Regions from separate parts of the Homo sapiens genome. Here regions 1 and 2 are each linked to region 3. The links come from fine-mapping of genetic effects on gene expression. A gene starts in region 3. Each other region holds a variant in brackets. All regions are shown on one strand. Distances are from middle to middle. Region 1 overlaps MED15 (mediator complex subunit 15). Region 2 overlaps KLHL22 (kelch like family member 22). Region 3 holds the start of MED15 (mediator complex subunit 15).

Region 1 (5,000 bases), 28 kb after region 3:
GCCGACAGCAGGGGTGCCTGGGTGGAAGCAGGGTGGGAGGCCCTAACAGGCCTGATGGGATAGTCAGGCAATGTGCCAGGTAGTAGGTCATCATCCCTGGGGCCCTGGGGAGAGTGTGTGGGGCAGGCGCAGGAGCAGGCTCCTCAGTGGGCTCCTGGACAGGCTGCCTGCTCTGCTGGTGAGGAGCGAGGCTCAAAGCAAGCAGGGGCCTGGGTTGCTTCCCACACTCAGTGGCAGTTGCTCACTGGCAGTCATGTGACCTGGGGAGCTGGCGAGGGCGTGGGGGTAGGAATGGGAACGGGAGACAGAGGCCCTTTGGGAGGAATTGCCACAGATGCAGTGGGAGTTGGGGCAAAGATTTGAACTTTGGAGAATTAAAGGTGGCAGTCAGAAAGTGAAGGGAGTTCCCAAGTTTCTGGGATGGGCACTTGGTGCTGGGAGATGAAGACACGAAGAGCTTTTCTTGATGTATCCCTGCTGGCTGCTCAGGCAGGGTCGGGCAATGCCATTAAGACACACTGTGTTCTGGGAACAGTTCTGGACAGTAAGGACATCCTCAGACCCCTTAGTGGGGGAGCTCCAAGGGCCTGTAATGATGAATCGGTCCCCTGGGAGGCTTCAGTCTAAGCTAGATACCAGTTGAACCCTGACTGAGTACACAGACATAGCTATGGCAACCAGCTAGACCATGGCCAAAGGCAGAGCATTGGAGCCCAGTTCACAGCAAGGGACTGTGTGCTCTGAGCCGGTAACAGTCCTTGTGTTCAGAGGTCTGGCTGGTCGCAACCAGGGAGTGGCCCCCAGCCCCCTTCCTCAGCTAGAGCGAGCACCACCCAGGCAGCCTTGGGTTCTTTGGTGGCCGCCTCATAGGCCTGTACTGTTTGTGAACCTGTTGCTTATGTTGGACAGGACTGTGGCAGGACAGCCATCAAGGGTCTTCCCTTGTGAGCTGACACCAGTCTGCTCTTTGTCCTCCTCTGGCTGGACAGGCCCTCGTCTTCCCGGCTTGCTTGTGTGGGGGAAGAGCTCACTGTGACATGTGGGTTCTCTGTTCTTTGTCTCAGGCTGTGCTCCTTACTCCATGTTGGGGGCTGTCTCCTTGTGTGATAGTTTCCTTTCATTTCGTGACAGTGGCTCGAAGGGTTTTGTTTTCAGGAGACAGAGACTGAGGAGTAGCCATTCGGGTCTGGCTGCTCAGGAAGGCATGCTGGGGATGGCAGCAGAGCCCAGCTCAGGGAGATCAGAAGGGGGCTTTGGGAGCAGCCAGTGCTGTTCTGAAGGTGGGCCTGGGTCCTGCCTGCAGCCTCCCGCAGCGGGTGTGTTAGGTCTAAGGGAGGAAGGAAGGGGACTTGACCTCAGCAGGAGTGTGAAATGGGTACCCTCCTGGAGTCAATGTCCAGGCAGGGGATGCCTCTGAAAAGCGCCAGGCCAGCTGGAGAGGAAAGGGCAGGCATCTGCAGGGAAGTGTGGGGGATTAGCTGCAGAGTTCCTGGGTTCTTTTTCGCTTTGTCTCTATTTTGTGACACTTGATCTTCAAACTAGAAACAGGAGCAAAGACATTTTCAAAAATACAGTTGTCAGAACTGCAAAACCACACAGGGTCTGTTACTGGCCACCAAACCTGCTGGGCCTCCCTGGGTGGATGCTGTGGGAGAGATGTGGGAGTGACATGGCACAGTGCTGCTGTTCTGAGCGGTAGCCTTGCTGGAGGAGCGCCTTGCCGGAGGAGCACCTTGCTCCTTGGCCCCACTCTGACCCTCCGAAGCTCATGTGGAACTGGACATTTACCCCAACTCGGTTTCCTGGTGTTGGCCTGTCAAGACTTGCCTGTTTCTGGCCTCCAGCTTGGTCCATGCTCCTCAGGCTCTGAGTAGCTGACGGTGCCCACAGTGTCCATGTCATCTGTGACATTACCCAGGACAGGACAGGGCCCGTCTGCCAGTACATCCCCTGGTGTATGGTGCCACCTTGCCTTCAGCTCACCAAGCATATTTCTTCAACCTGGTCATCCCACCACCTCAGAGCTATTGCACTAAGCTGTGTTTCTAGATCTTGTCTCTCTGACTGTGCCAGGTGTCTCTGCTGCACCAAGACAGTGTCTGTCTGGGGCCTGCCAGTCTGCTGACACTCTCAAAAACGGCCAGTAGCAGCTCAAAAGGACTGCTTTTGTATCAAAGCCTGGCTTTGCTCTCTGATCGCTGCTGGTGGGCACAGAGCCCATCTGTGTAACTGGTTGTCACTCCCCAGACTCTTCTGCACCCTTCTTCCTCTCTGACTCCTGGCCACATCTGCCACCCACAGCCTCCCCACTCCTTACACAGCCAGCCTCCAGGCCGTCCTGCTTGGCCTGCAAATGCTCCCCTGCTGTTTCTACTGCTCTTCCCTGAGTCTCCCTATTGGTCCCAGTGCTTTGGGAGGCCAAGGTGGAGGATCACTTAAGGCCAGGAGTTTGAGACCAGCCTGGGCAACAAAGCAAGACCCTGTCTCTACAAAAAAAGTAAAAAATAAAAAAATTAGCCAGGCGTGGTGGCGCATGCCTGTAGTCCCAGCTATTTGGGAGGCTGAGGTGAGAGGATACTTGAGCCCAGGAGTTTGAAGCTGCAGTGAGCTGTGTTTGCCCCACTGCGCTGCACCTGTGAGAGAGTGAGACATTGTCTCAAAAAACAAAAGAAGAAAAAGAAAAAAGGAAGGTGGGAAGAACAAGTATGCCTTTGAAGGGCATACCTGCCTTGAGGGGCACAGATGAGGCAACCTTCAGAAAACAGGCCTGTGCAGCCACTTCTATCAGAAATGCTCACTGACTTCTTGGGGCCTAGCAGCTATCGTCTCAGCCTCTGGGTGTGGAGACCCTGCCCCATGCTAACCTGAGAGCATGAGTACAGGGTCCTCCCAGCCCACCCATGCCTCGCTTCCCCAGGACTCTGACCCAGTGCCGCGCGTGAGTTGGTTGTCAT[T/C]ATCCTCCTGGATTGTTAACTCTCTCATCTTTTGTGGCCCTGGTGACCTTTCTTACTTGTCTGTTCCACACCTGGATGCCTTGTGAGCAGAAACCCCTTGCTGCCTCCTCGCCTCCCTTCAGGCTTCAGGAAGCAGACAGGGAGGTAGGAACTCCAAGAGTGCAGGAGTCTCATTCTGTCGCCCAGGCTGGAGTGCAGTAGTGCCATCTTGGCTCACTGCAACCTCTGCCTCCAGGGTTCAAGCGATTCTCCTGCCTCAGCCTCCCGAGTAGCTGGGACCACAGGTGCCTGCCACCACACCCGACTAATTTTTGTATTTTTAGTGGAGACAGGGTTTCACCACGTTAGCCAGGCTGGTCTCAAACTCCTGACCTCAGGTGATCCACCTGCCTCGGCCTCCCAAAGTGCTGGGATTACAGACCTGAGCCATCGTGCCCAGCCCAAGAGTGCTTTTTGAATCTAGCAGGGTGGTAGGTCAATGTCATTTTGTTTTTCTTTTTACATTAAGACAGATGTATGCACCTCTCAGCATTAAACCTCCTTTCTGTGATGTCTTTAAGAATCACAGTCATATTGCTGTAGCCCCGTCTGTACATTCCTTCAGTTTCCTGAGGTTGGCTGGTTGCTGTTTGGAGTGGTCAGAATGCTTTCTAGCACGAGCTGGACTGGGCCTATTCAATTCACTCAGAGGCAAGGCCCCAGAGCCCTGACATGTTTGCTTGTTTCTTTTTTCTTTTGCTTTCTTTCTTTTTTTTTTTTTTGAGACGGAGTCTCGCACTGTTGCCCAGGCTGAAGTGCAGTGGCGCAATCTCCGCTCACTGCCAGCTCCGCCTCCCGGGTTCATGCCATTCTCCTGCCTCAGCCTCCCGAGTAGCTGGGACTACAGGCGCCTGCCACCATGCCCAGCTAATTTTTTGTATTTTTAGTAGAGACAGGGTTTCACTGTGTTAGCCAGGATGGTCGTGCTCGCCTGACCTCGTGATCTGCCCGCCTTGGCCTCCCAAAGTGCTGGGACTACAGGCGTGAGCCACCGTGCTCAGCCTGCTTCTTTCTTTCTTTTTTTTTTTTTTTTTTTTTTTGAGATGGAGTTTCGCTCTGTCACCCAGGCTGGAGTGCAGTGGCGCAATCTCGGCTCACTGCAACCTCCACCTCCCGGTTCAAGCGATTCTCCTGCCTCAGCCTCCTTTGTAGCTGAGATTACAGGCATGCGCAACCACACCCTGCTAATTTTGTATTTTTAGTAGAGACAGGGTTTCACCATGTTGGTCAGGTTGGTCTTGAACTCCTGACCTCAGATGATCCACCCGCCTCGGCCTCCCAAAGTGTTGGGATTACAGGCGTGTGGCACTGCACCTGGCCACTTGTTTCTTTATCAGCAAGCCCAGGGTGGGAGGCCAGGCAAGGAAGAGACCCATCCCACTGGCAAGAAGGCAGGCAGTGAGCACACCAGAGCAGTCCACCCCTGGGAGCCACAGGCCAGGCCTTTCTAACAGATTCACACTTGTTTTTGTCTTTCTGTGTGTGAGTGTGGGAGGTGGGGGTGGGGGTGGGTGGGGCAGCATGTGCTGCATTCGAGGGGTCTCCACCTTAACTGATGTACATGGCTCTTTATCCCCGTGGAGCAGCAGTGTGATGAAAAACTCTTCATAGGATTCTATCTCTTAGTACAAAATTGTTGGTAAATGGGTTTTTAAAGATATTTTTCACATTTATGTGGTCTTTCTCTTCTTGTCTCTAGCTAGAAGTGAAGTTGGAGCTTGTCTCTTTGATCCCACATATAGGACCTGCATTGTCCCACATAGGGACAGACCCTTGCCTTGGGAGGGACTGAGAGATGACTTCATGTGGCCCCTTCATTTTATAGGAGTAATCGAGTCTAGAACCAGGGTGCTACCATCTGGCAGAGTTCATGGGGAACGCAGGCCACTCAGAGAGCAGGAAATAGAGGCCAGCTGGCCACCCAGTAGTCTAATGCGTACTTCCTTGATCCTGAACTGGTTGTGAGCCATCCCTAGGGGCAACCCCTCCCCCGCCCCGTCCCTTCAT
Region 2 (7,577 bases), 49 kb before region 3:
CCGACGCATGTCTAATTGCTCCAGTACTATTTGCTGAAAGATATCTTTCCTCCACTCAATTGTTTCTGCACCTTTGTCCAAAATCATGTGTAACATGACTGGGCATATTTACTCAGGTCTGTGGGTTTTCCATTCTGTTTCACTGATCTATGTGTCTATCACTGTATCCATACCACAGCCTTGATTACTGTAGCTATGTAGTAATCTTGAAATTGGGCAGACTCCTCCCATCTTATCGTTCTTTTTCAAAATTATTTGAGCTATTCTAGTTCCTTTGCCTTTATATATACATTTCAGAATAATCTCATTTACATCTAATGTCACAAGTAAAATCAAATCAAAATTAAAAAATTTATTTTATTTATTTTGAAATTTATTTTATTATTATTTTTTGAGACAGTCTCACTCTGTCGCCCAGGCTGGAGTGCAGTGGCGCAATCTCGGCTCATTGCAACCTCTGCCTCCTGGGTTCAATCCATTCTTGTGCCTCAGCCTCCCCAGTAGCTGGGATTACAGGTGTGTGCCACCACACCCAGCTAATATTTGTATTTTTAGTAGAGATGGGGTTTCACCATGTTGGCCAGGCTGGTCTTGAACTCCTGACCTCAAGCGATACACCATCCTCGGCCTCCCAAAGTGCTGGGATTACAGACGTGAGCCACTGCGACCAGCAATAAAAAAAAATTTTAGGCTGGATGTGATGGCTCACTTCTCTAATCCCTGCACTTTGGCCGAGGCAGACAGATCCCTTGAGACCAGGGGTTCAAGAACAGCCTGGGCAATATGGTGAAACCTTCATGATACTAAAAATATAAATATTAGCTGGGCATGGTGGTGCTCACCTGTAATCCCAGCTACTTGGGAGGCTGAGGCAGGAGGATCACTTGAACCAGGGAGGCAGAGGTTGCAGTGAGCCGGGGTCATGCCACTGCACTCCAGCCTGGGTGACAGAGCGAGACTCTGTCTCAAAAAAAATAAAAATAAAAAAATTTTTAAAAAGCTTATTGTGCATGTAAAAGAAGAGTTCATGAACCAGGAAACCCCAAACTGGAAGTGGTATGAAGCCCCAATTCACAGCAGTTACAACACAGTTTATAAAGCATGAATGAGGAAGAATATTGTTCCCTACTGTGCATGTGGAGCTGCATAAGCTTTCTTTGTAAAGCTATCACACTGAGGGAGGAAAGCTTAAGTTTCAGTTACATGGCTACAGGCAGTTGGCCTAGGGGTATATCCAAACCTCAGCTTCAATTTTCATTTTCCCTTAATAGTACAAAAAACCTTCCTGAAATTTTGATAGGAATACTAGTATTCCTGTATTAATACTATATCAATATGAGGAATTCTGTATTAATATATGTATTATTAATTGGGTTGGGAAAGAACTGACATTCTTACTATTCTTACTCTTCCAATCCATGGACTTGGTATGTCTCTCCATCTATTCACATCTTCTTTTATTTCTTTCATCGGCTTTTTGTAATATTCAGTGTACCAATCCTGTGAGGTTTTTTGTTTGTTTGTTTTGAGACGGAGTCTTGGCAGAGTCTTGCTCTGTTGCCCAGGCTGGAATGCAGTGGTGTGATCTCAGCTCACTACAACCTCTGCCTCCCGGGTTCACGCCATTCTCCTGCCTCAGCCTCCTGAGTAGCTGGGACTATAGGCGCCTGCCACCATGCTCAGCTAATTTTTGTATTTTTAGTAGAGATGGGGTTTTACCATGTTGGCCAGGCTGGTCTTGAACTCCTGACCTCAGGTGATCCCCCCCGCCTGGGCCTCCCAAAGTGCTGGGATTACAGACGTGAGCCACCGCGCCCTGCCAACATGACCTATCCTTTTTCATTCCCCAACATCTGATCCATCAGCAAGCCTGATCAGTTTACCTCCACGCTACACTCTGAACCCTCCCATCTCCCTCCAGCTCCACAGCTGTGTGCCAGCACAGGCTACTGCTGTCTTCAGCCCAGACCACGCAATGACCCAGGGCCAGCCTCGCTTGCTCTGCTCTTGATCCTTGGGCTTCCTTCTTCTACAAGCATGCCCCATGCTTCCTCTCCTGCTCAGGAAAAGCTGTGAGCCCCTCTCCTGCCCTGGAAGGTCCTTCTGCTAGACTAGGCAGATGGTTAGATATGAGCAGGGAAGTGGACTCCAGGTTGGCCTCAGCCCCTAGCATGGCCAGAGGGACTATGACCTCTGAGACATGTTAACCACACCTGGGGTTTCAAAAGTCCCAACCCCTCTTTCAGTTAAGCTTATCCAGCTCAAGTAGGAACTAACCCCACAAGGAACTTTCCACCCCCGGGAGCCTGTGTTGTATAGTTTGCCCCAGTTTTGCTTGCTTCGAAAGTAACCTTTTGTTCACTGCAGTGGTAAAAAACACACCTCCTGGGTGAAGATTTAAGATGCTAATGAGACATGCGATAAATACACTAGCACGTAGAGCCACAGTGCATGCGCTGCTAGAAGACCACCCAAACAAAACATGCTTATGAGTAACACCTCTTCCCGCCCATTTATGAATAATCATGTAAGCCTCCTGTAAGGGAGGTTTCCCATGCCAGTTGGGGCGATCTTATTCTGGAGCAGCCTGCTCTGACTCGGCCTTCAGAATGTACCTTCACTTTTGCAATAAACTGCCTTACACTTATCTTCGTTAATGCATGTCTCTTGCTTAAAGTCTTAACCAAGAAGACAAGAACCGAGGACACATTCCCAGTAACATTTCCTCCCTCTGTAAATGGCAGGTCTAATTGACATCTCCTCAGATGGACATTCCCCAAAAAGTCCCTCTAGATTCATCCTACCAGAGCCCCCTCCCTGGAAATCCTCCAGTTCAGCCCCCTCTTCATTTCACTTACCATAATTGTAACCACTTTACTGATCTGTTTTCTGGTTAAGAGTGGTTTCTCCTACAAGGCTGTAAACACCATGGAGTGGGGAGTCTTTCTCATTTCTTGTCACCACTGGATTCCCAGGACTTGGTACATGGTGCTTAGTAGTTGCGGAATGAATGCGTGCATGAAGGAACACCGGCAGCCACGATGCAGCTGGTTGAAAGCCAAGGCTGCCCCTCTGTGGCCAAGCTGGAGAACTGCTGCTTCCCCAGCTGCCGCAGACAAAGAAACTGCTAAGCCCCTCCCACAACACCCACCTAGGAGGCTTCCCCCAACACCCTTCCTGGAACAGAACCCAAGAGCCCTCCTTGTCCACTTGGTCTCAAGGACCTCCTGATCTTCTCCATGCAAAATCTGCTCCTTTCCCCAGGATGGGGGTACGGAGTGTCCTTCCAAAGAGGCTTCCTTCTCCCCAAAGAAGCTGAGAGCAAGGAGCAGGCCACAGCTTGCAGCTCACAGCTGCCCAAGAGACAGAAATCTGTGTGGGCTGTGTGAATGACCTGGATAAAGAAGAGCTGGATCCATTGAGGAGACACTAGCCCTGACCCCTGAAGTCAAAGTC[T/A]AAGTCCCTGGGGGAATTGGGGGTCATGAGAGATACTGGAAAGAGGCTTACAAAGGCCAGAGCTCTTGCTAAACTCCCTGAGGCAGTGCAGGTAGAACCTGCCCCCCATACCATCCTCTGCCTCTCAGGTGCTCGGTTATCCCCAAAGGTGTACCTGGCCCATAGCAGGTGCTCCACAAATGCTATGCCAGTACTAGCGGGGTGCCCTGCTAGGGTACCCCTAGTACTGCTAGGGTATGCCCTGTTCTCGGAGGCTGAGACCCAGGAAGTAGGGGGCCAGCAAGGCCTGTTCCTTCCCTGGGATCCCATGTCTGGTTGTTACACCAGGCCTGAGTACCCCAAAGTCGTAAGATAAAAGAGAGGCACCTCCCTAAAACATCATTTTTCCATAATGAACATAATTTTAAACATCTTCAAATTGGAATAAACCAAGGTATTATATAGGATGCACGTGATTTTTTTTTCAAGTTGTCCCAATATTCAAACATAGGATTTAATATAAAAAATAAAACCTTAGAGTGTTTCTTGGCTCTGGAAGGCGCCACCCTTCAGGGGACCTAGAGGGAAGAGGTCTGAGGATAGGCCAGTGAGCTCTCAGGGTCCCTTCCTGTTTAACATCTCTGGAAGTGTCCCAGCTCGTCTCAGCTGCACAAAGAGCAAATGTTCTATCCACATTTGAACTACAAGGTTTAAGCAGCTTGCCAGGGCCAAGGTGGTGTGACAAGGTCTCAGCATGTAAGACTCACAAGTGGGGCACAATTCTGAGCAATGGGGTCTGGATCCTTGATGAGCCTCCCCAGGTGGACTGGCTGAACCTCATGGGGCCTCATCAATGCATTCAATGCAGGGTCTCTGGAGAAGCATGGATTCTGCTCACTGAGCCTGTTTCTCTGACCTGGGACAGGCCTTGACACCTAGGCCTCTCACTCTTTGCACATCCTGGGGAAGGAAATTAGGCAGGAGAAGGCCCCTCTTCGAGGGCTTCCTTACCTCCCTCTTGAGTGGGGCCACGTATGCCCAGGAGTTGGTGGCAGGGTCGTAGCGCTCCACAGCATTCAGGTCATTGTGGTAGTCACGGCCCGCCACAGCGTAGATGTACCTGCCTACAACACACACGGACAGGTCGGCGTGCTCCTGCTGCAGGGACTGGATCTGGAACCAGCGGTTGTGCCGTGGGTCATACCTGTGCCGAGACATGAGGAAAGCACAGCACTGACTAGGCAGGGAGGCTGCTCCGCAGGCTTGCACCTCTTGTTCTGGTCCCATTTCTGCTTTGCCTCAGCCCAGCCTGAACCCTCCCCAACTACCCCACATACCAGTGCACACCGATCTACAGCCAGGCCCACAGGCTGTTACACACCTGAGCACAGGTGCTCCCCACCACACAGCATGGAAGGAATGGCCAGGAGCCTCCTGTGTTTCCACCTAACTGTCCACCTGGGCTGTCCAATGGCTCTTTTTTTTTTTTTTTTTTTTTTTTTGTGGAGAGAGGTCTCTCTGTCCCCTAGGCTGAAGTGCAGTGGCACAATCATGGCTCACTGTAGCCTCGACCTCCTGGGCTTAAGTGATCCTACCACCTCAGTCTCCTAAGTAGCTGGGACTACAGGTGCGCACCACAACGCCCGCTATTTTTTTTTTTTTTTTTTTTTTTGATAGAGACAAGGTCTTGACACCTGGGATATGGACTTAGGCAATCCTCCTGCCTCAGCCTCAATGGCTGTTCGTACAGCCACTTCCATCTCACTTACCTCATCTCATCATCCACATAGCCTTGCTCCCACTCAGGAGGGCCTCCAAATACAGCCTCTCCACTGGATGGGTGCCATCAGCCCCCTCATTGGCCTCCAAGCCTTGAACTTCCCCCAGCACTCCATCAGGAGTGGTCTTCTCAGGCACGCCCTGCACACAGCACCCATCATACCCTCAGCTTTGTCAACAGCCGCACACACAAGGCTCTGGTCATCGTACTTTCACCTCCTCCCACCATGCTGCCAGCCCCGCGTTTCCTGACCTCCCCTCCACTCAAGGTCTCCCTCTCTGGGAAAGTGGAAAGGGTTAACTCCCACCCTGGACTGCAGGCTCTGTAAGGGCAGGGTGTGTGAGATTCCAGGGACCCCCATGGGAGAAAAGGCACTAGACTGGTTGCGGCAGGCCCACGAGGGTGGAGGAGTCTGGCCAGGACCCAAGGAGGGCTCCTGGGCTGAGCACCAACAGGGAGCATGGCCTGCAATGTGGAGCAGAGATGATCACAGAGCCATGAGGGGCCAGGACCCAGTGAGCTCAAAGCCAGTATCTGAAGTGTCCTTGCCCAACAGCCCACAGATAGTTACAGCCTCTTTCAGACAAGTGTTTTTATTTCTGCAGAGGAAGACCTATTCCAAAGAGAACAAGTCTAACTTCAACTGGCTCACAAGAGAGTAACCAAAGTTTTCTTTGGCCTGTGCCCTATGCTGGTTAGTGAAAAGATCAGTTTCATCCTTTGCTTCCTGCAGCCCCTGCAGTGTGGCCAGCCCCTCCCCGCCGCCTACCAGGAATGCAGCAAACAGGAGCCTCAGAAGGCAGGGCCAACAAGAGAGGGAACACACACCTGGGTCTCCCTGACCTGGTGTGAATCCTGGGCTCTTCCCTGTCTAGCTGGGTGTGCCTGGGCATCAGTTTTAATCTCTTGGGATTCGCTCAGTTCTGCACCTGTCCAATGAGGTGATATCACCTGCCTAGAAAAGCTATCAAGAAGAATCATAAAAGACGAGCATGAAAAGTGTCCTTGTTAACTTGGGGGTTCTGATGGATCATGGTTCATTTCTATATTCCTAGACCTCAGTGTAGCCTCTGGCTCAGGACAGATTATGTTCTGTCTGCTGAATGAATTAAACAAAGGAGTAAGATTACCAGCAATGAATCATTCATTCACTCTACCAACATTCCCAGGTCTCCCACTGTGGATGGGGCACAGTGCTCAGCACTACATCCAGAGGGAGCCTCAAGAGGTCAGGGCCCTGCCTTCCCCTGCAGAATGGAAACAGGCTAACCAGAGCAAATGAGTGCTTAATATAATGACAGACACTGTGAAAGAAAGAAAGGGAGGTAAGAAGATGAGTGACCTGCTGGTCAGCGGGGCCTGGGGAGGGCAGAGCTCCCTTGCAGTGATCAGGAAAGGCCTCCTGAGAAGGCAGGGTCTGAGACCTGCATGACCTGGGGCACAAGCCAGAAGAAGGTCTGGCAGGGGACCAGCAGTCCAGGATTGGGGCACAGCACTCACAGGGGCCCCGTCAACTGGCTGGGATGGTGCTGTTCACTGCCTTTCCTGTGCGCCTTCCTCCTTTATATACAAGTCTCTCCTCTCTTGTGTTCAGTCTGGCTCAATCACCATCTGCACCCCAAGTGTCTGCAACCAGAGTGAGATAGGACCCTCCATGTGCTCCTGTTTGCTCCTTCGAGTCTATTGTCCTCACAGCTTTTTAAGCTGAGTTCATGTGGATTTGTGGCTTCAAATTTAAAGACACACACAGGGCCGGGCGTGGTGGCTCACGCCTGTAATCCCAGAACTTTGGGAGGCTGAGGCGGGTGGATCACGAGGTCAGGAGTTCAAGACCAGACTGTCCAATATGGTGAAACCCCGTCTCCACTAAAAATATAAAAAAATTAGCCAGGCATGGTGGTGTGTGGCTGTAGTTCCAGCTACTCGGGAGGCTGAGGCAGGAGAATCACTTGAACCCGGGAGGCAGAAGTTGCAGTGAGCTGAGATCATGCCATTGCACTCCAGCCTGGGCGACAGAGTGAAACTCCATCCCCCAAAAAAAAAAAAAAAAAAAAAAAAAAAAAAAAAAAAAGACACCAACAGTGATACCATATGTCAATAATTTAGACATAGCCAAAGTTACACTGATTTCTTATTTCCCTGTTGTGTCCTGTATCCCTCTTCTTCTTTATTGAATTAATTTTCTACTTTATGAGAATAAGTCCTCAAGTAATATTTTTCTAATAAAAATAAGCTTTATTTTTGCATATAAAGATATAAACAATTTTACTTATTGCTATGGACTAGATGTTTGGATTCCCCCAAAACCCCTATGTTGAAGGCCTAACCCCCATTGTGATGGTAGTGGGAGGCATGGCCTTTG
Region 3 (7,476 bases):
AACCCAGGAGGCGGAGCTTGCAGTGAGCTGAGATCACGCCACTGTACTCCAGCCTGGGCAACAAAGCAAGACTCCGTTTCAAAAAAGAAAATTGATGGACTAGTCAAACAAGTTTTATGTTATCACTACTGAATGGTAAAGATAATAAAACTATCAATCCAACCTAAGAGCAAAATGTGCAATAAAAATGAATTGCGGCTGGGCTCACCCCTGTAGTCCCAGCAGTTTGGGAGGCCGAGGCGGGCGGATCACCTGAGGTCAGGAGTTTAAGACCAGCCTGGCCAATATGGTGAAACCTGGTCTCTACTAAAAATAAAAAGTAAGGCCAGGTGTGGTGGCGGGACCTACCTGTAATCCCAGCTACTTGGGAGGCTGGGGCAGGAGAATCGCTTGAACCTGGGAGGTGGAGGTTGCAGTGAGCCGAGATCGTGCCACTGCACTCCAGCCTGGGAGACAGTGCGAGACTCCATCTCAAAAAAAAAAAAAAAAATTGGGCACGGTGGTACAAGCCTGTAATCCCAGCTACTTGGGAGTCTGAGGCAGGAGAATTGCTTCAACCTGGGAGGCGGAGGTTGCAATGAGCCAAGATCGTGCTGCTGCACTCCAGCCCAGGCAACAGAGTGAGACTTTGTCTCAAAAAAAAAATGAATTGCATGGCTTGGCGCGGTGGCCCATGCCTGTAATCCAGCACTTTGGGAGACTGAGGCAGGTGGATATTTGAGGTCAGGAGTTCGAGACCAGCCTAGCCAACATGGTGAAACCCCATCTCTACTAAAAATACAAAAAATTAGCCAAGTATGGTGGCGTGCGCCTGTAATCCCAGTTACCTGGGAGGCTGAGGCAGAATTGCTTGAACCCAGGAGCTGGAGGTTGCAATGAGCCAAGATTGCACCACTGCACTCCAGCCTGGGCAACAGAGTGAGACTCCATCTCAAAAAAAAAAAAAAAAGAAACAATAACCACTCCCTCCCTACCTCCACATACATAAGTGATTACAGGCTCCAGGCCAAACACACAGAGGAGTTACATCTGGCTGGTGCTAGGATGGAAGGTGGGGCAGGTCACCACCTCCCAGGGACTGAGTGCCAAAGCAAGGAGGAAGATTGGAGGTGAGGCTGTATGGAGACAGCCACAGGCTCACAGAGCTTGTGCTGAGCTCTCTAGGGGGAAGCTTGATCTGCCTGGGAAGCTTCCAGCTCCTACCTCCTGCAGAGCCCAGAATGGTGTCCAGGAAATATGTGGCCATTGAGTGGAACCAGCCTTGGCATGGTAGCCTGCAGGAACCCGCAGGCTAGAGACATGGCCACATGAGCAGTGAGGATCTCCCCCGAGATGAGGATCCCCAGAACATAGTGTGGGATGCAGGTCTGGCCTCTGCATACCCTCGGCTTCCTCCATCACTTATTCTCAGACATCTAAACCACTAACATCCAGACTGGGGATCCCAGGAGGGTCTACAGTGTCAAGAGAGGGCAAGTCCACTTCAGGATCAACCTTCCTGTGGCCCCTTACTTTCCTTGGTCCACCTTTCCAGGTCACCCATCCAGACTGTCACCAGGGATCACTGCCCTGGGCACCAACCCAATGCGGGGACAAGTAGAAAAAGAGCTCTGGGGAAAATACCAAAGGGAATAGTCACTCAATTTTACTGTGATGATAAACTCCTGGCAAAGTTCCAGGCCTCTCTCTGTCTGTGTCTGTGAATTATGTGTCTGTGTCTCCATCAACCATAGTGCAGAAGGGGGAGGGTTGTCCTAAGTATCCTATTAACATGTTTGTTTGTTTGTTTGTTTGAGACAGAGTTTCGCTCTTGTTGCCCAGGCTGCAGTGCAATGGCATAATCTCAGCTCACTGCAACCTCCACCTCCTGGGTTCAAGTGATTCTCGTGCCTCAGCCTCCTGAGTAGCTGGGATTACAGGCACACACCACCATGCCTGGCTACTTTTGTATTTTTAGTAGAGACGGGGTTTCACTATGTTGGCCAAGCTGGTCTCGAACTCCTGACCTCAGGTGATCCACCTGCCTCAGCTTCCCAAAGTGCTGGGATTATAGGCGTGAGCCACCATGCCCAGCCAGAACACAGGACTTTCAAAACTTAAACCTGGGGCTGGGCACGGTGGCTCACACCTGTAATCCCAGCACTTTGGGAGGCCGAGGCAGGCGGATCACCTGTCAGGAGTTCAAGACCAGCCTGGGCAACATGGTGAAACCCCATCTTTACTAAAAATAAAATAAAATAAAATACAAAAATGAGTCGGGCGTGGTGGCGCACTGTAGTCCCAGCTACTGGGGAGGCTGAGGCACGAGAATCACTTGAACCCCGGATGGCGGGGACTGCAGTAAGCGATCACGCCACTGCACTCAAGCCTGGCAGACCTAGCGAGACTCTGTCTCAAAAAAAAAGAAAACAAGGCTGGGCGTGGTGGCTCACGCCTGTAATCCCAACACTTTGGGAGGCCAAGGCGGGTGGATCGCCAGGTCAGGAGATTGAGAACATCCTGGCCAACATGGTGAAACCCTGTCTCCACCAAAAATACAAAAATTAGCCAGATGTGGTGCCAGGTGCTTGTAGTCCCAGCTACTCAGGAGGCTGAGGCAGGAGAATCACTTGAACCTGAGAGGCGGAGGATGCAGTGAGCTGAGATTGCGCCACTGCACTCCAGCTTGGGCGACAGAGTGAGACTCTGTCTCAAAAAAAAAAAAAAAAAAAAAAAAAAAAAAACCAAGGGCCGGGCGCGGTGGCTCACGCCTGTAATCCCAGCAATTTGGGAGGCCGAGGCAGGCGGATCATGAGGTCAGGAGATCGAGACCATCCTGGCTAACACGGTGAAACCCTGTCTCTACTAAAAATACAAAAAAATTAGCTGGGCGTGGTGGCGGGCGCCTGTAGTCCCAGCTACTTGGGAGGCTGAGGCAGGAGAATGGCGTGAACCCGGGAGGCGGAGCTTGCAGTGAGCCAAGATTGTGCCACTGCACTCCAGCCTGGGCAACAGAGCAAGACTCCATCTCAAAAAACAAACAAACAAACAACAACAACAAAATAAAACAAGGAAAAAAACACTAAAACCTTGGATGTCCTGGGCAACCCCGGTCAAGATGATCACTCTAGATAGAGTTTTTAAAAATTAGTTTTCAGCCTGGCCAAGATGGTGAAACCCTGTCTCTACTAAGGATACAAAAAATTAGCTGGGCTTCGTAGCAGGCACCTGTAATCCCAGCTACTTGGGAGGCTGAGGCAGGAGAATCACTTGAACCCGGGAGGCAGAGGTTGCAGTGAGCCGAGATGTCACCACAGCACTCCAGTCTGGGCAACAGGGCGAGACTCCATCTCAAAAAAAAAAAATTAGTTTTGCCACCGGGCACGGTGGCTCATGCCTGTAATCCCAGCACTTTGGGAGGCCGAGGTAGGTGGATCACCTGAGGTCAGGAGTTCGAGACCAGCCTGGCCAACGTGGTGAAACCCTGTCTCTACTAAAAATACAAAAATTAGCCAGGCATGGTGGGGTACGCTTGTAATCCCAGCTACTGGGGAAGCTGAGGTGGGAGAATTGCGTGAACCCGGGAGACAGAGGTTGCAGTGAGCCGAGATGGCACCACTGCACTCCAGCCTGGCCAACAAGGGCTAAATTCTATCCCCCCCCCCTCAAAAAAAACAATAACGATTTTGGGAGTATTAGAGCAGAAAACGTTTGAAAACATGAACAGCTCTCACATCAACACAAGACATGAAACTCTGTTGGCAAGAGAGGCCTCTTTGGGGAGAGTGCTCACTCCTCTCCCACCCACTCTCTACCACCTTCAACCTCCTGTCTGGGGCACAGTAACAAGGGGTGTAAGGGGTGTACAGTGCCTAGCAGGGGCCTGGCACTTAGGCTTCAGTAGGTGCCAGTCCACAGTCTCCTGAGGCCCATGTTGGTTGGTGTCCACCTGGTGCTTATTGACCACTTGGGCTCCAGATTTTCCTCACGTCACCTCCCTCCCCAGGGTAGCAGATAAAGGCCCCATAGTTCCAAGGAGGCAGAACTTTTACATTCCTAAAAGCATTCTCAGGCCCCCATAACCCCTCATCCCACCTTCAGCTCGCTCACCTTCACCTATCAAATTCGTTTGACATCTGGCCTCCAGCAACTAGCTAGGCTGAGTTCTCCATGAAGGGGACGTGGCTGCTGGTCAAAAGGGAAAGCCCATGTCTAAAAATTAATTAACGTGGTTTAGGGGCCTCACATTCCCAACCCCCAAATACAGCCATTGTGAGATGTGAGATTCAAAAAATCGAAGAGTGAAGCGGTGATGAGAGTCCATCTGGTCGCTCTTCGGATGCGGCGCTAGCAGGCAGTTGCATGAAAGCAGATCCCAGATCACGTTGCACTGGCACACAGTAGGTACCCACACATATTTGATAAATAAACACTCTCTCCCTAGCATTACTATAGATAGCTGGCAGCTTGGCCTGGCATCCCGGAGGGGTCTGGATCTCAGGGACTAGATAAGGCCAGCACACTGAAGAGTTGCAGAAAATGCAGGCGGTCAGGCGCAGGTCTGCTGCGGGAGCACCTGCCGTGTCCGACAGCTGCACTGGAAGAGGGGCGTGTGTCTCCCAGCCGGGCGGAACCGAGACCGCTTCGTCCCCGGCGGGGAACTTCATTTCCCACAAGCCTGTGCGCGAGACTCCATTTCCCACAAGCCCTCCTTCACTTCCGGCTCGGCCGAGGCACTGCGGACGGCTTCCGGGTTTGGGCCTGGCTCTGTGACTGAGGCGGCGGCGGTGGCGGCCAAGCGGGATACGGGCGGCGGGAGCTGGGGAACAGGCATGGACGTTTCCGGGCAAGAGACCGACTGGCGGAGCACCGCCTTCCGGCAGAAGCTGGTCAGTCAAATGTGAGTAGTGGTCGGGGCAGGGGGCTGGATTGTGGGACCTTCCTCCTTAGCGTGGCGGGCGAGGCCAGGGCCGGACCCGTGAGAAACCTACGGCGCCGGGAGACAGAAGGCGCCGGGGACTTGCGTGGGTCCCAGGGCTCGGGCCCCCCCGTCTGTCCCCTCCGTTCCCGACATGGACTGCTCGTTTGCTTTCCTGGGGCCGAGCTCTGCAAACCAACGAGCCCTGGCTTATGAATCATCGTCTTGAGCTTTCTCATTCGTCATTTGTGTGCTTTGGGTGCAGACTTTCCCCCGCTTTTTGAACCACACTGAATAGGGAAAGGGAGAGAAGCAGCCGGCTGTAGTGGGTTTAGCAGGGCTGGGTGCTTCATGGTTTCTCTTCCAGAAAAGCGCATCAACGGTGAAAGAAAGTGATGGGAGGAGGGTGGATGTAAGATGAGATTGGGAAGGTAGTTGTTTGGGGTGTGGGCGGTGGGACGGAGGATCTGAGGGTGACCCCCCGAAGGAATGTGGACTTTGCCGAAGGATGGCAGGAAGCCGCTGTCAGGAAGCGATCGTCGTTTCTGGAGGAGAGCGTGAAGAGCTGGGGTCAGTGGCCCCGCTCAGAGGAACTCTAGCCCCTCACCACCGACTGCTTGTTTCTGTTAGCAGTTTTTTTCATGCGCGTCCGTGTGAAGAGACCACCAAACAGGCTTTGTGTGAGCAATAAAGCTGTTTATTTCACCTGGGTGCAGGTGGGCTGAGTCCGAAAAGAGAGTCAGCGAAGGGAGATAGGGGTGGGGTCGTTTTATAGGATTTGGGAAGGTAATGGAAAATTAGTCAATTGTTCTCTGGTGGGCAGGGATGGATCTCACAAAGTACATTCTCAAGGGTGGGGAGAATTACAAAGAACCTTCTTAAGGGTGGGGGAGATTACAAAGTACATTGATCAGTTAGGGTGGGGCAGGAACAAATCACAATGGTGGAATGTCATCAGTTACGGCTGTTTTTACTTCTTTTGTGGATCTTCAGTTACTTCAGGCCATCTGGATGTATACGTGCAAGTCACAGGGGATGCGATGGCCTGGCCTGGGCTCAGAGGCCTGACAGTTTTTAACTGAGCTTATTGGCGTGTTGTGCTCGCCACAGATTTGCCTGAGACACAGCCCCTTTCCTGAGGGATGGTAAAGGAACCGTCACAGCGCAGTCTTGTCAGTCTGTAATGTGTATACTGCAGGGGTTTCTTGCGAAGCGGCGGTTAACTTGAGCAGACCAGGGGCAGTCTAGTGAGTAGGTGACGAATAAATTGAGTCCTAGAAAGACAAGTAGGAGTGTGAATAGCCACCATTCCAAGCTGAGGAGTTAGGAAACATGAGCATTTACTGCGTGGAGGGAGGATCTTGTAGGCTGAGAGTTCTGGGGCTCGAGGAGTAAGAGAGCCCAGGAGATGATGGAATGAGGGTGAGCAGGTACTAGCACTTTAGTGGGGGTGTTGTGCCAAGGAATTGAGCCTGTGTTTGGCATGTGGCATTCTTTGGAGTAGTGAAATGCCAGTGTTGGGAATATGCCTAGAGTCCCTGTCCCTGGAGATGGATGCAGGGCAGAGAAGAGAGACCAGTTAAGCTATTAAGAGAGTTTGAACATTTGGAGGGAGTAGGGAACCTGTCCTTTTTCATCCTTATATTCTCACTGCTAGCTCACTGCCTGCCACATTGCTCCGTAAAATGATTGTGGCATGACCTAGTCGGGCGGGAGATTATAAAGGCCTGCATTAGACAGTGGTAGAAACTGAAAGAGGAAGACAGATTCCAGAGGAGGGGGAACGTAGACAATTCTTGATGACTAACTGGATGGAGGGGGGTGGGGTGTGGGGTGAAGCATTGTGGAAGGAAGGAAGCCGGGCTGAATGCTGGGAAACCTTTCAGTACAGTGGAAAGAGTAGGGACTGTAGAGTTAGTAGCTATGGGCTTTGGGAAGAATAGCCTTGGGATATTTCTGGGGATATTGCACAATCAGTGAACAGTGTTTTACTGATAAAATATAGTTATCTGTAGGTGAAAACTTGAGAGATATCCCACTTCAGGGTTCCTGCAAGAAAAGTCCCCAGGGCAAGGGTTCTTCTCTGGGAAAGCCCAGAATTAAGAACTGGAAGGGTGAGTTGTCATCAAAGAAAATGGGGGTAGGGGAAGTGTTAAGAGGGCTGGGAGGGTGATTGAAGAGTTTATGGGTGTTGAGTGACTGGATACTTCATAACTCAGCTTTATTTTGCTTCCGGGAGAATTGAGTTCTTTATTTTTTTCGATATTGCTGTTTGTGTGTTTTTCTGTTGCCGCTCTAACAAATTACCACAAGTTTAGCATCTTAAAACAACACACCTTTAGCCAGGTGTGGTGGCTCACGCCTGTAATCCCAGCACTTTGGGAGACTGAGGCAGGCGGATCACGAGGTCAAGAGACTGAGACCCATCCTGGCCAACACGGTGAAACCCTATCTCTACTAAAAATCCAAAAATTAGCTGGGTGTGATGGCGCACACCTGTAGTCCCAGCTACTCAAGAGTCTGAGGCAGGAGAATTGCTTGAACCCGGGAGGCGGAGGTTGCAGTGAGCCGAGATCGCA

Evidence for each region. PIP is the estimated chance that this variant, and not a neighbour inherited with it, causes the effect.
Region 1: its variant is fine-mapped to the expression of MED15 in blood mononuclear cells (TOPMed, PIP above 0.99). The same link has a PIP of 0.9 or more in thyroid.
Region 2: its variant is fine-mapped to the expression of MED15 in whole blood (TOPMed, PIP 0.98).

The regions. Positions count from the first base shown.
Region 1 is chr22:20,531,863-20,536,862 of GRCh38, forward strand. The region is part of intron 1 of MED15 (mediator complex subunit 15); the gene reads left to right. Among named protein-coding and RNA genes, the nearest start is that of MED15, 27 kb to the left of the region's middle. The variant T/C (reference allele first, on the strand shown) is at 2,955.
Region 2 is chr22:20,453,362-20,460,938 of GRCh38, forward strand. KLHL22 (kelch like family member 22) reads right to left here. Exons shown (of 7, transcript NM_032775.4): 5 at 4,447-4,639. Among named protein-coding and RNA genes, the nearest start is that of SCARF2, 19 kb to the left of the region's middle. RefSeq lists enhancers at 1,985-2,154, 2,903-3,404 and a silencer at 6,369-6,567. The variant T/A (reference allele first, on the strand shown) is at 3,457.
Region 3 is chr22:20,502,868-20,510,343 of GRCh38, forward strand. MED15 (mediator complex subunit 15) reads left to right here and starts at 4,743. Exons shown (of 18, transcript NM_001003891.3): 1 at 4,743-4,879. The coding sequence starts at 4,812. RefSeq lists enhancers at 2,347-2,846, 4,726-4,835.